Regions from separate parts of the Homo sapiens genome. Here region 2 is linked to region 1. Evidence: fine-mapped QTL for protein levels in blood plasma. A gene starts in region 1. The other region holds a variant in brackets. All regions are shown on one strand. Distances are from middle to middle.

Region 1 (2,856 bases):
GCCTAAGATTGGGGGGGTGAGGGCCCGGTGTGTGCAGCGCGAGGCAGCTGACCCTTGACAATCTCCTAAGGGCTATTTCTTGGGGTCCCCCATCTCAAAGGGCTGGGAGCCTCTAGGATTTCTAACCAGTATGGCTGAGGGTCTAAAGGGACGTGTCTTGGTGCCTCAAGGGGGTGCCTCACATCTTCCTGGAACGCCCAGCTTGATGCTGGGAAGCAGACTGGAGGGGGTCCCACAGAGCTGGAAGCCCTGGAGACGCAGGCAGCCCTGGCGGGACAGTGGCAGAGAAGGTGGGAAGCTCTGCCTTTTCGTGGGCCTCGTCCTGCACTTGAGCAAGGAGGGCCTGGCCGAGGCCATACCTGCTCGCCATCCTCAATCAGGACTATGCTTTGACTTCCTAAGGAAGTTCCCTGAATTTCATGCAATGCACCAGGAGAGCAGAGAGAGAGTCTAGGGTCTCATGTAACGTTCTCCATAATGATGAGCCCCCCACTCCGCTCACTTTATTGGCTTTGAACACTATGCCCTTAAGACCTGTTTCCAAATGAGTCCTGTGTCTTAAGACCTATTAATGTAGCAGACCTGGCCACTCTAGGAGAAAATGCTCTTTCAGATCTATGATAACAAAAGGGGCCAAAGAGGCCCTGCAGGGGCATGGAGGGAGGCAATAGTGAACTCAAGCTTCGTTTCCCCCGGTCCTTCCTCCTCCTCCCCTGTCAGGCCAGTGCCAAGTGAGAGGCAGAGGAAGGATGGTACAAACTGTGCCGACACCGTTTGAGGGACCGAAGGATGTCTGCCTCCTCCAGGCCAATTCTCCATTCACTGAGGTGCAGCGATCCAGCACCCCCAGTTCAGACAGCTGGCTATATCCCTCAAGACCCGAGGGTCCTTTGGGTCCCTGGAAGAACCCAGGGTCTGAGGCACCCTCTCATGCCCCCAGCAAACTAAGCTGGGCATTTGCTTCTCCGTGAACACCCGGCACCCTGCTCAGCCCTAGCAGGGGAGAAACTGAAACTGGCTATGCTCGGGCTGGGGAGGGTGCTGGGGAGATGACCCTGATCGTTGGCCCCTGGGATAAGGGAGGTCTGACCACAGGGTAGATGGGCACTCACCAGCCAGGGATCCCACAGTCAAGATGGTCAGCAGCGTCCTCATCGGGGCTGGCACAGAGCCCTCCCTTGGCCTCTACTCTGCCGTGCACAGAGAGAGGGCTGGGAGTCTTGGCGCCCTGGCAGCTGGCTCCACCCGGGCATGGGGCGGGGAGAAGGGGGTGGGTGGGACCTGTGCCGGTGGGGAGCAGGGGTACAAAGGTGTCCTGGCCCTGTGTGCTCTGGAATTCCAGGTTCTGGGCGGGATCTAAGGGAGTTCCCTTCCGACTTGCAGAAAACAGCAATAGTAACAGGCTGGCTTGTTTATCTGGTCCGGTGGCTGATTCATCCCAAGTGGTTTATCAAGGAGCTGAGGGGCAGAAAAGGCAAGAATAATCCACGATATGCAGCCTTATCAAAAAGCAATTTGGCACTGTGGATCAAAAGCCTACACCACATACATATCTTTTGCTTTAATAATTCTATTCCTAGGGGATTTACCCTGATGAAAATAACTGGACAACAGAGGGGGAAAAAAAAGGTCCCAGAATGTTTCTTGCAGCAAAGGAAAAGCTGTGACTCCTTTGCTTTTCTGGCAGGAGGAGATTGAGGGCACCCGATGCTCCTCCTTGATCCTCCATATCAAGGCAGGTCCCCACGCTTGGGGTGGGCTTGGGAACAGCTCTCCCCTAGAGAGGCCGTTGGGGGTGAGGAAGCCCAGCCGCTCTTACCTTGAGCCTTTGGGTCTAGGATCTGCAAAAGTTTAGAAAAAAAATGGAACTCAAACTTCAGTGATTCTTTCTGCTGTGCTAGAGATGGGGCTGAACTTCATGAATGGGGCTTTGGTTCGGGACGATGAAGATTCAGGCTGCTCTCCCATCATTTTGCCACGTAGGGCAGGATCTGCACATGAGCTTCGTGTGAATGAAGGGACAGGTGTTTAGGAAATGGTTTTCTCCTTCCTGCAGGGCCTGGAGAAGGTAGAAGGGCCCTGGGGCCTGGACTCTGGTCAGGGTGGACACGATTGGAGGGTCCTGCCCCTGGGGAGAGTTTGCCTGGCCCCAAGCACACAAAGGCAAGCGAAATTTTAGCAGGGATCCTGCCAACGGGTTGGGTGTAATGGGCTGTGATATGCTGAGATCGGTGTTTAAGTTTTTCTTTCCTGAATTGTAATTGTTATCAGCCCTGATTGCTAAAGTTTGTTTGACAAAACAGCCAAATCTAAGCTGTGCTTTGGAGGAATTAAGGTAGGGCCCATGCCAGTCATTTCCTGAAACTGCAGGAAACTACATTTTCTAGACTCCTTTATCAACTGCTTTCTGATAGGTTTAGCCCCTGGGGGAAGACTGGGGAGGCAGAGATCAGAGCATTTCTCCCCTCGTTTTCTGTTTGAGTGGCTTCCCCAGCAATGGCCATATCCCTCTGCAGTTCTGGCTCCCTCTGGACAGTCCATCAGCCAGGCAACCCCTTATGTCTTTCTTGTTCCTGTTTGGAGGCCAGCTCCTGGCTCTGGCAACACCTTCTCCCCTCATCTTTCCTTTCAGTTGGTGGGATGGCACAGCTTCCTGCTTTGGGGAAATCTCTGAACTGTCTGTCCTGATTAGTGTCCCAGCTCCTTCATCCTCTGGGTGACGAGCTCCTTTACATTAAAGTCCCTTGGTCTGAAAGACTGGAGAGGTTTCTGTGCTACTGAATGAACCATGATGGATAGAGGGTTTTTGATGACTTTGATGACAAGGCAGTGTGGGGAAGCTACAGCGAGAAAAAC
Region 2 (2,832 bases), 22 kb before region 1:
GATTGTGAAACTGGCCAGGAATGGGGCAAGGAGAGGCAAATTCCCTGAGCACTTTGAATCCATGGTGTTAGGAGGTGGGGCTCTGGACCTCGGGAGTTTCCCTGCATTTCCTCCTTGCACTGTCATTTCTGCCTTGCAGGGCTCAGCGAGCACGCGCTTGTCTACACAAGCTGCTCCCCAGAGCTCCCCCGCTGCAGTCCTTATCATGCTGCTTTGCTCCGGTGAGGAGCGCACCCATGGCAGGGGCCCTGCATGCCACTCCCTCTGCTTCTCTCAAGGGCACCCGTCTGAGGCCAGATCGCAGAGTGTGTGGCGTGGGCAGGCATGGGATTGACAGCCAAGGATGTGACACTGGGTAGGGACAGGGAGGAAGCACCAAGCCTTTCCCATTCCCCTCAGGACTCCCACTGCACAGTCAGGGCCAGGCCTCTGAAAAGAGAATCCAGTTCTGTGGGCTGCTCCAGGTCTGAGGTCTCAGGGGCTGGGCTCTTGGCTTCATCCTTGGGACACACAAGGGACTCCAGCAGGCCCCAGGGACTTGGACCTTGGTCCGAGGGGGAACATGGACGGGAAGGAGGTTGCAAAGGGAGGGACATGGGGTGGCCCTCGATCTGGACTGAGGAGAGGAGGGGGAGCTGGCCCTTTAGGTACTGTGGTGTCCCTTCCTCCCCACTGTGTAGCACATTTGGGTCAGATGTTCTGTCTGTGCAAATCCCCAGGGGCTGGTGCAATGATTTTGCTTCTTGGGATTCCTCCATAGCCAAGGAGGTCACCTCCTGCAGAGAAAGGCCACCTAACATGCAGCTTCCAGCTGGTGGCTCTTTCTGAAGCTGACCTTTAGGCCTAAGGTGTTTAGGACTAGAAAGTGTCCCAGTGGGGGAGTCTTTGCCAGAACCTTCCATGCATACCCCATAGGAGGGAGGCCAGCTGTCCGGAGTGGCTTGAGGGGCATAGGAGGAAGGCTGGACCTTAGAGATGGCCTGTGGGGCGTAGAATGGGAATTGAGCTTCGGGGGTCACCTGAGGTGCATAGGATGGGGGCCCGACCTCAGGGGCAGCGTTTGGGGCATAGGACAGTGGGGAGAGGATCTGGGGAGGTGGCACGTTGGAGGGCTGGAGGATGGAGATGTCTGGCTGCCCTAAGTAGGTGATCTCGGACAGGCTATGCCGCTGTGGAGCTCCTGCGGGCTCCCTGGGTCCAGACACCCTGATCTGGGAGTACTGGACAGGCTGGGCCAGACTGCTGGGGCCGCTGAGGTCAAAGACAGGGATCAGGACGTGCTCCTGGATGAAGCGCAGCGGCTGGAAAGTCAGGACTCGCTGGACGTTCTGTGCAGGGACGACAACAGTCACCCCCCTGTGGTTAGGGTAAGTCCCAAGCTCCCTACTGGTGATGTGGGTGGGTGAGGTCCTCCATAGGGAGGCATCTGGGGGCTTTTTCAAGATGCGTCTGTCCCATATCCCCATCTGCTTCCCAGAGACTCCTCTAGGTGCAAGTGCCTCTCTGAAGGGACAGGGTCTCTCAGCTCTTTGGTTCTAAAGCCTGGGTTATCTCAGGGAGAGAGATCTGGGCTCTGGTTTCTCCAGGAGGCGGATAATCCAGGGAGTAGATGACCAGGATTTGGGGTTGCCTTGGGGCATGATCTCGAGGTGGTGGCCCGCATTGTTGCTTGGCCCACGGGTCCCTGAGGGCCTAATACAGGGTCAGGGTGGGAAAAGAAGGAGCCAGGAGAGACCGGGAGAGCTTTACAGAAAATGCTTCATCTGGACTTGCACATTGAGCAAAACTCCCTCAGAGCTCCTCTGTCCCTCCGATGGGCAAGAGCAGGCTCCGGGTGCCTCAGGTGGCTCAGCTCATGGCTTCTGCAGTGGCCTTGCTGCTCTAGCAGAGG[C/T]GGCACTGGCGTCAGGTGGGGGCTGCTGATGTGATTTGTGTGGCTGATGTAGGGCTTTCCATTTTATTTTTATTTTTTGGGTGGGGGGTGGTTTTATTTTTTGGGTGGGGGGTGGTTCTGGTCTTCACTTGCTACAGCAATTCTAAAAGAACTGTAACAAAGGGCTTTCCACTTAACAATTAGTTTTGCCATTTAAAAATTTCTGTTTAAAATGGCCAGGTGCAGTGGCTCACGCTTGTAATCCCAGCACTTTGGGAGGCCGAGGTGGGTAGATCACCTGAAGTCAGGAGTTTGAGACCAGCCTGGCCAACATGGTAAAACCCGTCTCTACTAAAAATACAAAAATTAGCCAGGTGTGGTGGTGGTGCATGCCTGTAATCCCAGCTACTTGGGAGGATGAGGCAGGAGAATCGCTTGAACTCGGGAGGTGGAGGTTGTGCTGAGACGAGATCATGCCACTGCACTCCAGCCTGGGTGACAGAGGGAGACTCCATCTCAAAAAAAAAAAAATCTGTTTAAAAAATTAGTTCTGAATATTTGAAAATTGGGAGATTCCACAATATAATCTGAAACTCTGGCTTCTCTTGAAAAACATGAAGATCAGGCAGTGCTGGGCCTGCATTCCCACATGGTGGTGCCCGGCTGCCCATTTAGACAGGGCATGAGTGCCACGGCTCTCCTGGCGCCCACCATTCCTCCCTCGTTGCCTTGCTGCTCACTCAAGTCCCACACTACCCTCCTGGTGCTGGACACTTCCAAGCCATGTGGGTTTTTTATTCCATGTCTACTATTCCTGATCACCCACCCCACTTCAATGTGTCCTGAGACCTGCTGGGCTACACGTCCGTTGACTTTAGCTGGGACTGTGAGCTCCGTGAATGGAGAGAGCAGGCCCATCTCCTGCTTTGTCTGTGGATCCCTGCATTTTGGGGACAACTGGG

Alleles and levels. Alleles are on the strand shown, and positions count from the first base shown. The strength of an association depends on the size of the effect and on how common the allele is.
In carriers of allele T in region 2, the plasma level of the protein whose gene starts at base 1,213 in region 1 tends to be higher than with C alone (moderate association).

Evidence for each region. PIP is the chance, under the fine-mapping model, that this variant and not a neighbour inherited with it causes the effect. Protein levels are from antibody-based Olink assays in UK Biobank. Linkage for the fine-mapping came from a reference panel and not from the study's own genotypes, which makes the PIPs less certain.
Region 2: its variant is fine-mapped to the plasma level of the IL22RA1 protein (UK Biobank, PIP above 0.99).

The regions. Positions count from the first base shown.
Region 1 is chr1:24,141,928-24,144,783 of GRCh38, forward strand. It overlaps IL22RA1 (interleukin 22 receptor subunit alpha 1), which reads right to left and starts at 1,213. Exons shown (of 7, transcript NM_021258.4): 1 at 1,113-1,213. The coding sequence starts at 1,155.
Region 2 is chr1:24,120,410-24,123,241 of GRCh38, forward strand. IL22RA1 (interleukin 22 receptor subunit alpha 1) reads right to left here. Exons shown (of 7, transcript NM_021258.4): 7 at 1-1,328. The coding sequence ends at 396. Among named protein-coding and RNA genes, the nearest start is that of MYOM3, 9.7 kb to the left of the region's middle. RefSeq lists a silencer at 30-324. The variant C/T (reference allele first, on the strand shown) is at 1,892.